Regions from separate parts of the Homo sapiens genome. Here region 2 is linked to region 1. Evidence: fine-mapped expression QTL. Tissue or cell type: whole blood. Region 1 holds a variant in brackets; the other region holds the start of a gene. All regions are shown on one strand. Distances are between the middles of the regions.

The links. PIP is the estimated chance that this variant, and not a neighbour inherited with it, causes the effect.
Region 2: it holds the start of LIMK1, and the variant in region 1 is fine-mapped to the expression of LIMK1 in whole blood (INTERVAL, PIP above 0.99).

What each region holds. Positions count from the first base shown.
Region 1 is chr7:74,144,037-74,152,136 of GRCh38, forward strand. No RefSeq gene overlaps it. Among named protein-coding and RNA genes, the nearest start is that of EIF4H, 26 kb to the right of the region's middle. The variant G/A (reference allele first, on the strand shown) is at 4,019.
Region 2 is chr7:74,079,706-74,087,805 of GRCh38, forward strand. It overlaps LIMK1 (LIM domain kinase 1), which reads left to right and starts at 4,099. Exons shown (of 16, transcript NM_002314.4): 1 at 4,099-4,340; 2 at 6,043-6,139. The coding sequence starts at 4,286. RefSeq lists enhancers at 2,799-3,477, 3,473-3,582, 3,478-4,156, 4,643-4,912, 5,424-6,023 and 1 more and silencers at 3,853-4,122, 4,243-4,292, 4,403-4,452.

The sequences.
Region 1 (8,100 bases):
TTTAGTACAGACGGGGTTTCACTCCGTGTTAGCCAGGATGGTCTCGATCTCCTGACCTCGTGATCTGCCCACCTCGGCCTCCCAATGTGCTGGGATTACAGGCGTGAGCCACCGCACCCGGCCACCTTCCCTCCTTTTTCATTTCTTTCCTCCTTCCCCTCCTGCCCACTCTTTCTCCTTTAAATATTGAAGTCCTCAAAACTCTCTGGAAAAGCCATGGGTCACAGATTTTTCTTTGGCTTGGGTCTCTTTTTCCTGGGCATGTCCTCAACCTTAGCAAAATAAACCTCTAAATTCATTGAGTCCCCTCCTCTCCCCTCCCCTCCTCTTCCCTTCCCTTCCCTTCCCCTTTCTTTGAGACAGGGTCTCACTCTGTCATCCAGGCCAGGGTACAGTGGTGCAAATGATAGGGACAAGAGGCAGGGAAATTCTGGGCAGAAGAGGGTGGGTCCCCAGAGAGGGCATTGCCCTCAAGCTGAAAAACCTGGAACTGCAGCCCAAAGTGAGAACTGACATCCCTGTTTTTTGTTTTTTGGTTTTTTTTTGAGATGGAGTCTCCCCTTCTGTCACCCAGGCTGGAGTACAATGGTGCGATTTTGGCTCACTGCAACCTCCACCTCCCGGGTTCAAGTGATTCTCCTGCCTCAGCCTCCCGAGTAATCCGAGCCGGGATTACAGGCACACACCACCACACCCGGCTAATTTTTGTATTTTTATTAGAGAAGGGGTTTCACTATCTTGGCCAGGCTGGTGTTGAACTCCTGATTTCGTGATCCACCCTCCTTGCCTCCCAAAGTGCTGGGATTACAGGCATGAGCCACCGTGCCCAGCCAACATCGCTGCTTTCCTGCTTGAATGTTGCCTTTTCCAAAACCACCCTTGACCTGCCCTGCCCCCAATCCTGTGCCCATAAAAACCCCAGGCCCAGCTAGCAGAGAGAGGAGAAGCAGCTGGACGTCAAAGACCATGGTTGAACATTGGAGAGAAGTGGCTTGACTTCAGAGGGACAGTTTGCTGGAGTAGCTTTGGAGGAGTATGGCCAGGGACAGCTGGACTTCAGAGAAAGATTACCTTCCTGCTCTGTCCCCTTTTCAGCTCCCCTTCCCGCTTAGAGCCACTTTCATCAGCAATAAAGTCTCCTGCATTTACCATCTTCAATTCATTTGTGTGACCTAATTCCTCCTGGACACTGAAAAAGAACTTGGGTGCCACGAGTGTGGATGCAAAAGGCTGTCACACCGATCCTCCACTAAGCTGTTAACACTTAAGCCATTCACAGACAGCAGAGCTAAAAGAGTACTCTAACACTGCCTCTGGGGCTTCAATAGTCTCCGGCACCCTCCGCTAGACACTATCATGGGGCTGGTATGGAGATGGCTCTTGCTGGCGCCTAAAAACTCTCGCCCCGTCTCCTGCACCTGCTCACCTGTGCTCCCTCTCCTGTGAGGGGTGGAGTAGTGAGTGAGTGGAGTTCACCCCTACCAGCACCAAAGCAGCTGGCTAGTTCTTAGGCAACATCCTGCTTCACAATCACAGCTCACTGCAACCTCCCACCTCCCAGGCTCAAGTGTTCCTCCTGCCTCAGCCTCCCAAAGTGCTGGGATTGCAGGCATGAGCCACCATGCCCAGCCAGTCATTTTCTTTGGTTTACACTACTTTACCTCCCTGAGCCTTATTTTCCCCAAATGAGAGGTAGAAACTCCTCTGTTGGGAGGATTAAATGAGATATGTCTCAAATTTTTGTTGAAAACTGGACATTTTATTTTATCTTATTTTACTTATTTTTGAGACAAGGTCTCACTCACTCTGTCACTCAGGCTAGAGTGCAGTGGTGCAATCTTGGCTCCCTGAAAGCTTAACCTCCTGGGCTCAAGTGATCCTCCTGTCTCAGCCTCCTGAGCAGCTGGGACTATAGGCTCCAGCCACCACACTTGGCTAATTTATTTTTATTTTTATTTTTTGTAGAGACAGAGTCTCACTATGTTGCCTAGGATGGTCTGGAACTCCTGGGCTCAAGTGGTTCTCCTGACTCGGCCCCACAAAGTGCTGGCATTACAGGTGTGAGCCATGGCACCCAGCAAAAACTGGACATTTTAAATCATGTATTGTAATTCTAAATTCTGATGTCCTGGTGGTAGCTGTTGTAGATTTTGACATTGTTGTTGTTTGCTGGTTGTCTGTTTGGTTGTTTAATAACTTGAAGCCACTAAAGGAAGCCTCTGTTTTGTTTTGTGATTCTTGCTTTTATTTTCAAGACTGGCTTCCTAGGGGTCCATCTCTGAATCAGCATTGCTTAGTGCCCAGCCACTGTTTGGTCAGAAGGTTTCCGTAAACACCTTGACACACTAAGCCTTCCTTGGTCAAGAGGACCTGTGAGGGGGGTTGGGACACAGGTTAAATTATTTCCTCAAGGGCGTTGACATTTCTTTCTTTTTTCTTTTTTTTTTGAGATGGAGTCTGTCTCTATTACTCAGGCTGGAGTGCAGTAGCATGATCTTGGCTCACTGCAACCTCTACCTCCCAGGTTCAAGCGATTCTCCTGCCTCAGCCTCCCGAGTAGCTGGGATTACAGGCGCCCGCCACCACACCCAACTAATTTTTGTATTTTAGTAGAGATGGGGTTTCACCACCATGTTGGCCAGGCTGGTCTGGAACCCTCGACTTCAAGTGATCCACCTGCCTCAGCCTCCCAGAGTTTGGGATTACAGGTGTGAGCCACCACACCTGGCCTCTTTTTTTCTTTTCTTTTTTTTTTTTTTTTTGAGATGGAGTTTCGCTCTTGTTGCCCAGGCTGGAGGGCAATGGCATGATCTCGGCTCACTGCAACCTCTGGCTCCCGGGTACGAGCAATTCTCCTGCCTCAGCCTCCCAAGTAGCTGGGACTATAGACATGCGCCACACGCCTAATTGTTTGTATTTTTAGTAGAGATGGGGTTTCACCATGTTGACCAGGCAGGTCTCGAACTCCTGACCTCAGGAGATCTGCTCACCTCAGCCTCCCACAGGTATGAGCCACCATGCTCAGCTTTATTTTGTTTTATTTTATTTTATTTTATTTTATTTTATTTGAGACAGAGTCTCGCTCTGTCGCCCAGGCTGGAGTCCAGTGGAGCTATCTCGGCTCACTGCAACCTCTGCCTCTCAGGTTCAAGCAATTCTCATGTCTCAGTCTCTCAAGTAGCTGGGATTACAGGTGTGTGCCACCACGCCCAGATAATTTTTTTATTATTAGTTTTAGTAGAGTCGGGGTTTTGCCATGTTGCCCAGCCTGGTCTTGTACTCCTGACCTCAAGATATCCACCCGCCTCGGCCTCCCAAAGTGCTGGGATTATAGGCATGAGCCACCATACCCGGCCTCTTTTTTTAATTTTTATGGATATGTGGTAGGTATATGTATTTATGAGGTACATGAGATATTTTGATACAGGCATACAATGCATCATAATCACATCAGAGTAAATGGGGTATCCATCATCTCAAACATTTATCATTTCTTTGTTACAAACATTCCAATTATGCTCTTCTAGTTATTTTTAATTGCATAATAAATTATTGTTGACTGCCCAGGCACAGTGGCTCACGCCTGTAATCCCAGCACTTTGGGAGGCCGAGGCAGGTGGATTGCCTGAAGTCAGGAGTTCAAGACCAGCCTGAACAACATGGAGAAATCCCGTCTCTACTAAAAATACAAAATTAGCCAGGTGCAGTGGCGCATGCCTGTAATCCCAGCTACTTGGGAGGATGAGGTAGGAGAATCTCTTGAACCCAGGAGACAGAGGTTGCGGTGAGCCGAGATCGCACCATTGCATTCCAGCCTGGGCGACATTTTGTATGACATTGCTTAACCATAAACTCTTCATTTGCTTTTGTTTTTCTTTTCTTTTTTTTTGAGACGGAGTCTCGCTCTGTTGCCCACGGGTTCCACCGTGTTAGCCAGGATGGTCTCGATCTCTTGACCTTGTGATCCGCCAGCCTCGGCCTCCCAAAGTGCTGGGATTACAGGTATGAGCCACCACCC[G/A]CGGCCTGTTTTTCATTTTATTGTCTGAGAATCCCTTGCAGCCTGGGGGCATAGATTCGGGGAATTCTCCCACTCCTCACTTTCTTTTCTTCCTTAGGAATATCTTGGCCAGGTGCAGTGGCTTACACCTGAAATCCCAGAACTTTGGCAAGCTAAGGCAGGAGGAATGCTTGAGGTCAGGAGTTTGAGACCCGCCTGGGGAACAAAGTGAGATCCTATCTCTATTTAAAAAATAAGAATAATGGCCAGTCTTGGGGGATCACTCCTGTAATCCCAGAACTTTGGAAGGCAGAGGTGGGAGGATCACTTGAACCCACAAGGTTGAGGCTGCAGTGAGACGAGATTGTTCTGCCACACTCCAGCCTGGGTGGCAGAGTGAGACCCTGTCTCAAAACAACAACAACAATTAAAAAAAAAAAAAAAAGAATATCTTTATTTCTGACTTGGGGGCTTGCAGGTGGCTGAACTATTTCTGTGGAATGATCTGGAAACCCACACATATGTGAAGCCAGGTCAGGGCTTTGAATTCTTTGAATTATCAGGCTGAGGCAGGCAAGTTTGTCACTCCTCAAGGTAGATGAACTCATGATCTCCAGTCTACCCTTTCACAGACTGTGTGGCTTTTCAAGGATCACATTTCAAAGGGATCTCAGGCACAATTTCCATTTGAACTGGGTCCAGATACAATTTCCATTTGAACTGGACCTCAATGTAGTAGTCTCTCATTGTCTGAAGTATCACTCGGAGTTCTTTGTCTCACAACCATGAAAATTAAGGAGCATGGGCACCAAGGATGAGGCTGGAGTGAAAGTTTAATAAGCTAAAGAAGAAAGCTCTCTGCCGTGGAGAGGGGGTCTGAAAGAGGCCATTATTATTTATTTATTTATTTGAGACAGAGTTTCACTCTTGTTGCCCAGGCTGGAGTGCAATGGCATGATCTCGGCTCACCACAACCTCCACCTCCCGGGTTCAAGTGATTCTCCTGCCTCAGCCTCCTGAGTAGCTGGGATTATAGGCATGCACCACCACACCCAGTTAATGTTGTATTTTCAGTAGAGACGGGGTTTCTCCATGTTGGTCAGGCTAGTGTCGAACTCTCCTCAGGAGATCCACCCACCTCGGCCTCCCAAAGTACTGGGATTACAGGCATGAGCCACCGTGCCCAGCCAAAAGAGGCCATTTTTACAGTTGAATGCAAAAGCTTTTATAAGAAACCAATGAGGGCTGGGCATTTCATTTACATAAGGTGTGAATTTCTCCTATCTCCACCCCATCCTTCTAATGCGCATGGGGGCCCTTAGCTTAATTTACTCCATATTGCTTTAATTTTTTTTTAAATTAGCCATATTTTGCAAAAAAAAAAAAAAAAAGTGCATACATCCTATAATGTCCTATTTTATCTAGTAACTCTAGCCTAGGGCCTCATCTCCTGACCTGACACGGGCATTAAAGCAAGCTCCTGGCCACTGACCCTCAGTGACCATTCAGAGCAGAGACGTGATCAATTCATTGCCTATCATCTGTGGCGTTTAGTTTCCTCTTTGTTTCTGGATTCCTAGGATTTCCCTTTCTTTCATGGGAGCTCAACTGGGCATTGAAAATAATTTTTTTTAATTGTATTAAACATTTCAAAGAGTTTCAATAGGAAGGTTTTCTGGTTCTCCCTGCCTGACAAATCAGAAACATATGGAGAGGTTTTTCAGTACATGTTTCATAGCCCTTCTTTCTCTGCCAAAATTCTGATATAGCCCCCTGGAGAACAACAAAATCTGGATGGAGTTTGGGCCAGAATTGGGGTGGGGTATAGATTGGCTCCTATGTGCTTGGAAAATAACTCACAACCCACTTTCCCAGTGTTGATTCAATTCTTTGTGTCTTAGACATTTTTTCTCATTTTGTTTTGTTTGAGACAGGGTCTCGCTCTGTCACCCAGGCTGGAGTACAGTGGCACAATCTTAGCTCACTGTAGTCTTGGCACCCCCGGGCTCAAGCCATCCTCCCGCCTCAGCCTCCCACATAGCTGGGACTACAGATGCGCACCACCATGCCTGGCTAAGTCTTTTTTTTTTTTTTTTTTTTTGAGACGGAGTCTCGCTCTGTCACCCAGGCTGGAGTGCAGTGGCGTGATCTCGGCTCACTGCAAGCTCCGCCTCCCAGGTTCACGCCATTCTCCTGCCTCAGCCTCCAGAGTAGCTGCTGGGACTACAGGTGCCCACTACCACACCCGACTAATTTTTTGTATTTTTAGTAGAGATGGGGTTTCACCATGTTGGCCAGGATGGTCTCGATCTCTTGACCTCGTGATCCACCCGCCTCGGCCTCCCAAAGTGCTGGGATTACAGGCGTGAGCCACCGCGCCCGGCCAATTTTTTGTATTTTTAGTACAGACAGGGTTTCACCATGTTAGCCAGGTTGGTCTTGATCTCCCGACCTTGTGATCCGCCCGTCTTGGCCTCCCAAAGTGCTGGGATTACAGGTGTGAGCCAGCACGCCCGGCCCTGGCTAAGTCTTAGACTTTTGTTTCCCCAACGTCTAACACAGTTTCATGGCCCATAGAAGATACTGAGTGCATGAATGAGGAATGCACGAATGACTCTTGGCAGACACTTCGTGGTCAGCATAAAAGAGGGAGAAAGCTGGCTGGGCAAAGTGGCTCACACCTGCAATCCCAGCACTTTGGGAGGCCGAGGCCAGTGGATCACGGGAGGCTGAGGCTGGTTCAAGACCAGCCTGGCCAACGTGGTGAAACCCATCTCTACTAAAAATACAAAAAATTAGTTGGGCGTGATGGCAGGCGCCTATAATCCCAGCTATTCAGGAGGCTGAAGCAGGAGAATCTCCTGAACCCAGGAGGCAGAGACTGCAGTGAGCTGAGATCGTGCCATTGCACTGCAGCCTGGGCAACAAGAGTGAAACTTCGTCTCAAAAAAAAAAAAAAAAAAGGGGGAGGGAGCGGATAAAGCTTATCTTGCATGTCTAATATATGATCAAACTAGATGGTACCCGATACAGCAGAGCACATAGTAATTGCTCGAGAAAGGTCATTATCCAGCAGAGCACAGTGGTTCATGCCTGTAATTCCAGCACTTTGGGAGGCTGAGGCAGGAGAATCATTTGAGGCCAGGAGTTCAAGACCAGCCTGGGCAACATTATGAGACCATCCCCCATCTCTACAGAAAAGTTTTTACAAATTAGCTGGGCATGGTGGGGTGTGCCTGTAGTCCCACCTACTTGGGAGGCTGAGGTGTGAGCATCACTTGAACCCAGGAATTTGACGCTGCAGTGAGCTGTGATTGCACTGCTGCACTCCAGCCTTGGTGGCAGAGTGAGACTCCAGATAAATAAATAAATGGAGGAGCTCACCACCATCCCCATGGGCTGAGCCAGGCTCGCACCACTGCACTCCAGCCTGGGCGACAGAGCGAGACCCTGTCTCAGAAAATAAAAAGAATTTTTTTTTTTTTTGAGACACAGTCTCGCTCTGTCGCCCAGGCTGGAGTGCAGCAGTGTGATCAGGGCTTACTGCAGCCTTGCACTTTTTGATGTTGTTGTTGTTCTTAGTTTCTTTGTTTGTGTTTAACGCTAAAAGATATTCTCCAGCAGAGAGCTGGTGCCATCAACAAGGAAAGAGAAAAAAGGAGAAGGGGCTCAAGTACTTGATACTTGATCACAGTCACGATATTCTCTAACAGAGAAGGCAGGGGCTTGATTTAAATAAGGCCGGGCACGGTGGCTCACGCCTATAATCCCAGCACGTTGGGAGGCTGAGGTGGGCAGATCACCTGAGGTCAGAAGTTCAAGACCAGCCTGGTCAACATGGCGAAACCCGTCTCTACTAAAAATACAAAAATTAGCCGGGCGTGGTGGTGGGCGCCTATAGTCCCAGCCATTCGGGAGGCTGAGGCAGGAGACTTGCTTGAACCCAGGAGGTGGAGGTTGCAGTGAGCCAAGATCGTGCCACTGCATTCCAGCCTGGGCAACAGAGTGAGACTCTGTCTCAAAAAAAAGAAAAAGAAAAAAAGAAAAAAATTTTAATACAAAAACAGCAATGACTGATTTTATGGAGAAGGCACTGGCCAGGA
Region 2 (8,100 bases), 64 kb before region 1:
GTGGTGGCAGGCACCTGTAATCCCAGCTACTCGGGAGGCTGAGGCAGGAGAATCACTTGAATCCAGGAGGCAGAGGTTGCAGTGAGCCGAGTTAGCGCCACTGCAGTCCAGCTTGGGCAACAGGGCGAGACTCCATCTCAAAAAAACAAAAACAAAACAAAAAACTTTTATCAGGCCGGACTCAGTGGCTCATGCCTATAATCCCAGCACTTTGGGAACACAAAGTGGAAAGGATCAATTGAGCACAGGAGTTCGAGACTAGCCTGGGCAACATGGTAAGACCCCCCCCCATCTCTACAAAAGATAAAAATTAGCCAGACGTGGCGTGTGTGCCTGTGGGTCCACCTACCTAGAAGTCTGAGGTGGGAGGATCACTTGAGCTCAGGAGTTTGAGGCTGCAGTGAGCTACGATCGTGCCACTGCATTCCACCCTGTGTGACAGAGTGAGACCCTGTCTCTCTTAAAAAAAAAAAAAAAAAAAAGTCCAAAAATCCTTTTTGCAGCCAGGCGAGATGGCTCACATCTATAATCCCAGCACTTTGGGAGGCCTAGGTGGGCGAATCGCCTGAGGTCAGGAGTTCGAGACCAGTCTGGCCAACCTGGTGAAACCCCATCTCTACTAAAAATACAAAAAATTAGCCAGGCATGGTGGTGCACACCTGTAATCCCAGCTACTTGGGAGGCTGAGGCAGGAGAATTGCTTGAACCCAGGAGGTGGAGATTGCAATGAGCTGGGATCGTGCCACTGCACTCCAGCCTGGGAAAGAAGAGCAAACCTCCATCTCAAAATAAATAAATAAATAAATAAATATAAATAAAAAGCAAAAATCCTTTTTGCTTTCAGCAAAAAAAATCTTGCATGAGCAATGTAACTGAATATGTCAGATCTGATGTTTCACCTGGAACTGTGGCTGACAAGGAGCTCCTACAAGGTGTGGAAGTGCCAGCTCCATCTTTTCGCTCATCTGGGTGTGTTAGCATCTTCTTTTTTTTTTTTTTTGTTTATTTGTTTGAGACAGGCTGTACAATGGCATGATCAGAGCTCACTAGAGCCTCCAAATCCTGGACTCAAGCGATCCTCCCGTCTCAGCCTCCTGAGTAGCTGTGACTACAGGTGCACACCACCACTCCCAGATAATTTTTTTTTTTCCGAAGAGATGTGAGGGGGTCTCACTATGTTGCCCAGGCTGGTCTTGAACTCCTGACCTCAAGCGATCCTCCCAGTTCAGCCTCCCAAAGTGCTGGGATTACAGGTATAAGCCACTGCACCCAGTCTGCATCATCTTCAATCTGTGCTTTCTTTTTTTTTTTTTGAGATGGAGTCTTGCTCTGTCACCAGGCTGGGGTGCAGTGGCGCAATCTCGGCTCACCGCAACCTCCAACTCCCTGGTTCAAGCGATTTTCCTGCCTCAGCCTCCCAAGTAGCTGGGATTGCAGGCACGTACCACCATGCCCAGCTAATTTTTGTATTTTTAGTAGAGACGGGGTTTCACCATGTTGGCCAGGATGGTCTCGATCTCCTGACCTCACGATCCACCCGCCTCAGCCTCTCAAAGTGCTGGGATTACAGGTGTGAGCCACCACGCCAGGCCCAATCTGTGCTTTCTTTGCAGGAATTGTTTTCAACTATGAGTCCATTCTGTGAGGGTTAATTTAGTCAAAACTGGATAACATCACTCAACCAAGCTGGCTCAGGCTCACAGCCCCTCCAGGCCACTATGCACTTCTCTGCCCTGCACTGTGGGCACAGCATCAACATGGCCCTGCCCGCTGCATCCAGACGGGATTGGTTAACGGGAGGCAATGGAAGAATAAGAAGAGCAGGGGAGTCAGATCAGAATAGCCCTTCTGGGCCCTCTTCCCCATGAGTCCCCCAGAACTGGGGACCCCTCTTGCACAGCTCCTCTCAGGCAGGCCTCTCCTCCAGGGACCCCCTCTATGCCCCCTTACCCTGGGCTGGTAACTGCTGCCACCCCTCCAACTGTGCCAGTCCTTACTGATCTCCTTTAATCCCCCCTCCCCAGTGCATTGCAAACATCCCCTTTATCAAACTCTCCCCAGTTAGCCCCACTAAGTGGCACTTTCTGTTTCCAGCCAGGGTCCTGCCTGGTATATGCCCTACAGCCAAGTTACAAGGCTCTCATTCCCCTCTCTTTCCTTCCCCTTTTTTTCCCTCCCTATCTTTTTTGACAGGGTCTCTGTCACCCAGGCTAGAGTGCAATGGTGCAATCATAGCTCACTGCAGCCTCAACCTCCTGAGGTCAAGTATCCTCCCACCTCAGCCTCCCAAGTAACTAACTACAGGCATGAGCCACCATGCCTGGCTAATTAAAAAAAAAAAAAAAAGTCTGGGCGCGGTGGCTCACGCCTGTAATCCCAGCACTTTGGGAGGCCAAGGTGGGTGGATCACCTGAGGTCCAGAATTCGAGACCAGCCTGACCAACATGGAGAAACCCCGTCTCTATTAAAAATACAAAATTAGCCAGGTATGGTGGTGCATGCCTATAATCCCAGCTATTCCAGAGGCTGAGGCAGGAGAATGGCTTGAACCCGGGAGGTGGAGGTTGCTGTGAGCTGAGATCGCACCATTGCACTCCAGCCTGGGCAACAAGAGTGAAACTCCATTTCAAAAAAAAAAAAAGTTAGAAGAGACAGGGTTTCACTTCATTGCTTAAGCTGATCTCCAATTCCTGGCCCCACGTGATGCTCCCACCTTGGCCTCCCAAAGTGCTGGGATTATAGGTGTGAGCCACTGTGCCCAGCCTTCTTTCTCATGAGAAATTAAAAATTCTGGCCAGGCGTGGTGGCTCACACCTGTAATCCCAGCACTTTGGGAAGCCGAGGAGGGTGGATCACCTGAGGTCAGGAGTTCAGGACCAGCCTGGTCAACATGGTGAAACCTCATCTCTACTAAAAATACAAAAATTAGTCGGTCATGGTGGTGCACGCCTGTAATATCAGCTACTCGGGAGGCTAAGGTGGGAGAATTGCTTGAACCTGGGAGGTGGAGACTGCGGTGAGCCGAGATCCCGCCACTGCACTCCAGCCTAGGCAACAGAGCGAGACCGAATCTAAAAAAAGAAAAAAAAAATCTAGTATTTTCTTCCCACCCCACGTAATTGTTTTGCACCCAGGGGTGAGTGCCCCCCACTTTGCAGACGTGCCTAGACCTCTCCCCACAAACATGATGACTAGAGTTGGAGCTGGGCTAGCGCTGCCTCTTGTTCACTGGGTTCACGTGGGCACGTGGCTCCACTCCGGTCACTGCTTCCTGGGCAGAGGGATGACGTGGAAGGTAGACCTAGGGGGGACAGGGTTGCTTCCTGCCCATGTCCAGCATTCTAGAATTGTCCACATCTAGGCAGGGCGTTCCACCATCAGTGCTGGACTGGACCACCCAATTCCTTTGGACGCTTGACTCAGCCCAAACCCGTGCTCCCTCCAGGACCCTGGGCAGGGCAGCCCCAGCTCCAGGTAATCGGCACTGAGAAGAGTACACCTGTCACCGCCTGGCAGGGGCTCGCTCCTTTCTCTGGTGCTGCTCATTCGCGAGGCCTGAGACGCGGACCGTCACCTTCCCCGGGCCCAGCCTGGCCTCAATGCAGGCCTCAGAGAGAGGGACAAAACCCGGCCCGCCTCCCTCCCCTCCCCAAGGCGACCACCAGTGTCCTGGGGGTCCACAGGGCCTCTCCAGCTCTGATCCGAGTTCCCGGCTGCAGCTGGTTTGGGTCTGTGGGGGCCTCGCGCAGGGAAGCGGAGGCCCCTTCTCTAGGCTCCTACATCCTCCTGGCCTGCCCCAGCAGAGCTAGCGGCCCTCCGAGACAGCTGGGCCTCGCAGCTCCCAGCCGAGGCCTGTCGCTGGGAGAAAGAAGAATGAATGAAGGGCGGAAGGGGCGGGGAGGGGCGGGGCGCGCCGCGCCAGCTCGCGGCGCCCCCAGGCCGGGCCGCAGCGGGGCGTGGCCTCTAGAGGCGTGGCCTTGGGCGTGGGGGCGGGGTTTTCTGGTGGGGGCGGGGCCGCGCAGGGCCGTTCCCGCCGCCGGCCGCCCGCGCCCCGCCCCCGTGCCGCAGCTCACAGGCCCCGCCTCGGTCCGCCCCTCCGCTCGCTCCCCAAGCCGCCGCGGCGCCGAGCCGGTTTCCCCGCCGGTGTCCGAGAGGCGCCCCCGGCCCGGCCCGGCCCGGCCCGCGCCCTCCGCCCCCGCCTCCCCGGGCCGGCGGCGGTGGGCGAGCTCGCGGGCCCGGCCGCCCCCAGCCCCAGCCCCGCCGGGCCCCGCCCCCCGTCGAGTGCATGAGGTTGACGCTACTTTGTTGCACCTGGAGGGAAGAACGTATGGGAGAGGAAGGTGCGCGGGCCGCGGGGTGTGGGGCGAGGGCCTGGAGGGGGTGCCCGGGGCAGCGTGGGGCACGGGAGGGGGCCGGGTCTGCCAGGAGGCCGCGCCCCTGCCTCCTCCGGGATGAGCTCGTCCTTACGAAGCCCGCAGGCCCCTCCCTGTCCCCCTCCCGCCCGGGATCCCCCTCCCCGGCCCCCGGCGAGCTGCCCTCCTGCGGGTCTGGGGGCCCCTGGACCCTTTTTCCTCCTCCCACGTCCCCCCGCGAAGGACTCCCAGACACTGCCCACCCCGCGTCGGCCTCCATCCGCGTGCTCTGTCCACCACCCGGGCCTCGCCCTGGGGCCACCCTTTATCCAGTCTCGGAAGAAAGAGCGGCTGGGGAAGCCGCAGCCCCGGGTCCCAGTGGCCGCCGGGCGCCTGCCCGGCTCTGTGACCTTGAGCCAGGCGCTGACTTCCTGGTCCTCAGTTTCCCCTTCTGTACATTTGGAAACTGGGTAGTTGCCCCCCCGGTGTCGGTGATTGGGGGCCAGATGGGTAGAGCGGAGATAGGCGTCCAGGAAGCCGGAGGCCGTGTACTGCGGGAGCCTCATCCACTCTCCCTGTCCGTGCCCCAAACCCGGTGCCTGCCCTCAGTCTTGGCTGGGAGCATGACTCATCCTAACCTCCTCTTTAGCCCCTTCTCCCTCACTGGGGCCCAAGGCGCAGTACTGCACTGCAGTTAGGGTTCAAGGACTCCCCCAGCCTAGGACAGGGTCTGGGGGCCCCTCCTTGGATCTCCTTCGCTGACCTGTCACTTAGATCCACCTGGCCCCAAGGCAGGGCCTGACTCCACACCTCCCCCTGCCACCAACTCTTCCCAGGCCCATGAAAACCTGATTGGGGTAGGGGCCCACCTTCCTGTAGCCCCTGCCTACCTAAGGTACCTGCGTCTTCACAGAGGGTCAGGCTGTTGTGGCCTTGGGACCTAGCTATGTGACTGGGCAAGCCATGCCATCTCTGGGGCTCAGTCTCCCCTTCTGTACAGTGGAGAGGGGCAGGTCTGGGGCATTTTCCAGGGCCCACCAGCTCCAAGGGTGCCAGGCCCCAAGGATGACTAAGCATGCCTGTGGCTGGCTAGAGGAGGTGCCAGGCCTCCCTGGGACAGGTGTCTGGGAGTACCCAGGTCTGCAGCCCCCTCCCCTTGCCAAGCCAGGGCATTCATTGCCAAGGATCTGTTAGGGCCGGCACCTCCAGGCTTCCTGCCCTTGACCTCCCAGCTGGCTTCAGCCCAGGATGCACTAATCCAGCCCTGTCCAGTCCCTGCCTTTGAAGGGCCCTCTTAGTACTTCTTCCTGGGCAGGAGAGGGAAGAAAGGAGGCTGTGATAGGAATGTCACCCACTGCCTTATCCCTAAAGCCACTGCTTCCTTTCTCCTCATTTACCTTGCCAGATCCAATGCTATAGCGGGAGGATGGACCTGATCCTCCTCCTAAGCTGATACATAGGGAAACAGGGCCAGAGAAGCTTGGCAACCTAGTCAGTATCTCAGCAAGACTCAGGCCAGCGCCCTTTCTTCTCCTATTTGGCACAGCGACTGCCCTGCCTGGGCGCTGCACATGTGCAGTGTGCGAGGATTGGTGCAGGTGTAGGTATATGTGGGGTGGGCAGGGCAAGCTGGGCCTGCACCAGATCACACTTCCTGAGAATGCTTCCCAACTCCCTTCCCACCCTGCAGGAAGCGAGTTGCCCGTGTGTGCAAGCTGCGGCCAGAGGATCTATGATGGCCAGTACCTCCAGGCCCTGAACGCGGACTGGCACGCAGACTGCTTCAGGTAGGGTGGGGTGCCCAGGGCCTGTGTTGCCCTAAACAAGGCCTGCCAGAGAGGACAGGCTGGTCAAGGAATGGGGGAGGCCGGGATATGCCTCCTGGTGCCGTCCCCTATTGTGACTTCGTGGCCTTAATTTACCATTTATGACATGAGGTGTTTTGACTAGAAAATCCCTACAGGCCTTCCTGTTGTCATTTTATTTATCTATTTTTTTTTCTTTTTGAGACGGAGTCTCGCTCTGTCACCCAGGCTGGAGTACAGTGGTGCGATCTTGGCTCATTGCAACCTCTTCCTCCTGGGCTCACGCAGTTCTCCTGTGTCAGCCTCTGGAGTAGCTGGGATTACAGGCGTGCACCACCACGCCCAGCTAATTTTTGTATTTTTAGTAGAGACGGGTTTTGCCATGTTAGCCAGGCTGGTCTGAAACTTCTGACCTCAAGTGATCTTCCCACCTCAGCCTCCCAAAGTGCTGGGATGACAGACATAAACCACCGCTCCTGGCCTCATTTTATTTTCTTTTATGTATTTTTCTTTTTTCGAAATGGTCTTGCTCTGTTGCCCAGGCTGGAGTGCAGTGGTGCCATCTCGGCTCATTGCAACCTCCATCTCCCGGGCTAAAGTGATCCTCCTACTTCAGCCTCCCGAGTAGCTGGGATTATAGGTATACACCACAATGCTCAGCTAATTTTTTAAATTTTGTGTAAAGACAGGGTCTCACTATTGAGACCCAGGCTGGTCTTGAACTTGTGACCTCAAGCAATCCTCCTGCCTTGGCCTCCGAAAGTGCTAGGCTTACAGGCGTGAGCTAACGCCTTGGCCTCTGTTGTCATCCTAGATCTCTGAGATCTAAATCTTAGAGAGGATGGGAGAGACCTCCAATTGAGCCAGTGCCTGCAATTCAGCCCCCTGCTGGCACCCAGACAGGGGGAAGAGTTGGAAGGAATGTCCCTCCTGCCTTCTGGGTGTTCATGCTCTTGCAGGGAGGGAAGACAAACCAGGCCTTAAGGGAAACCAGGCCACCCTCAGTGTCTTCCAGGCTGCTTGCGAACATGCATAACCCAGTCACACCAGCCCCAGTGTCCAGACACACACCCACAGGTAGGAAGAAAGTAGGGTCAGGGTTGTGGCGGAGGATAAAGAGTACATGAGGACCTGAAGGTCACCCAGTAGGACCATCCTGAGAAGCCAGGAGCAGGGGTCTACCTGCCTTGAGCCAGAGCAGGGCCAGAGCAGGGGTCTCAAAGGATGTGAGATTTCCTGGGTAGAAAAGTAGAGTGGAGGTGGGGCGTGGTGGCTCACACCTATAATCCCATCACTTTTTGGGGCTGAGGTGGGCAGATCACTTGAGTTCAGGAGTTCGAGACAAGCCTGGGCAATATGGCAACACCCTGTCTCCACTGAAAATACAAAAAATTAGCCGGGCGTGGTGGCGCATGCCTGTAGTCCCAGCTACTCAAGAGGCTGAGGTGGCAGGGTTACTTGAGCCTGGGAGGTGGAGGCTGCAGTGAGCTATGATCGCACCACTGCACTCTAGCCTGGGCAATAGAGCGAGACCCAGTCTCAATTTTTAAAAAAGAAAGAAAGAAAAACAAATGGTGTGGGAGAGAATTACAGGCATAGTCACCAAACAGCAAGGTTCAGGGGAGAAAACTCCATAAAAGGGTAGAAGGTGAAGCTTCTGGGATGCCCAGCAGGGGTCAAGACATCCACCACTAGGACTTTATTTTAGGCTTCTGCCTTGGTTTATTTTTTGGTTTTTGGTTTTTTTGAGACAGTCTTGTTGTGTCGCCCAGGCTGGGGAGCAGTGGCGCGATCCCTCCTCACTGCAACCTCCGCCTCCCAGGTTCAAGCGATTCTCCTGCTTCAGCCTCCCAAGTAGCTGGGATTACAGGTGTGCACCACCACGCCCGGCTAAGTTTTGTATTTTCAGTAGAGATAGGGTTTTGCCATGTTGGCCAGGCTGG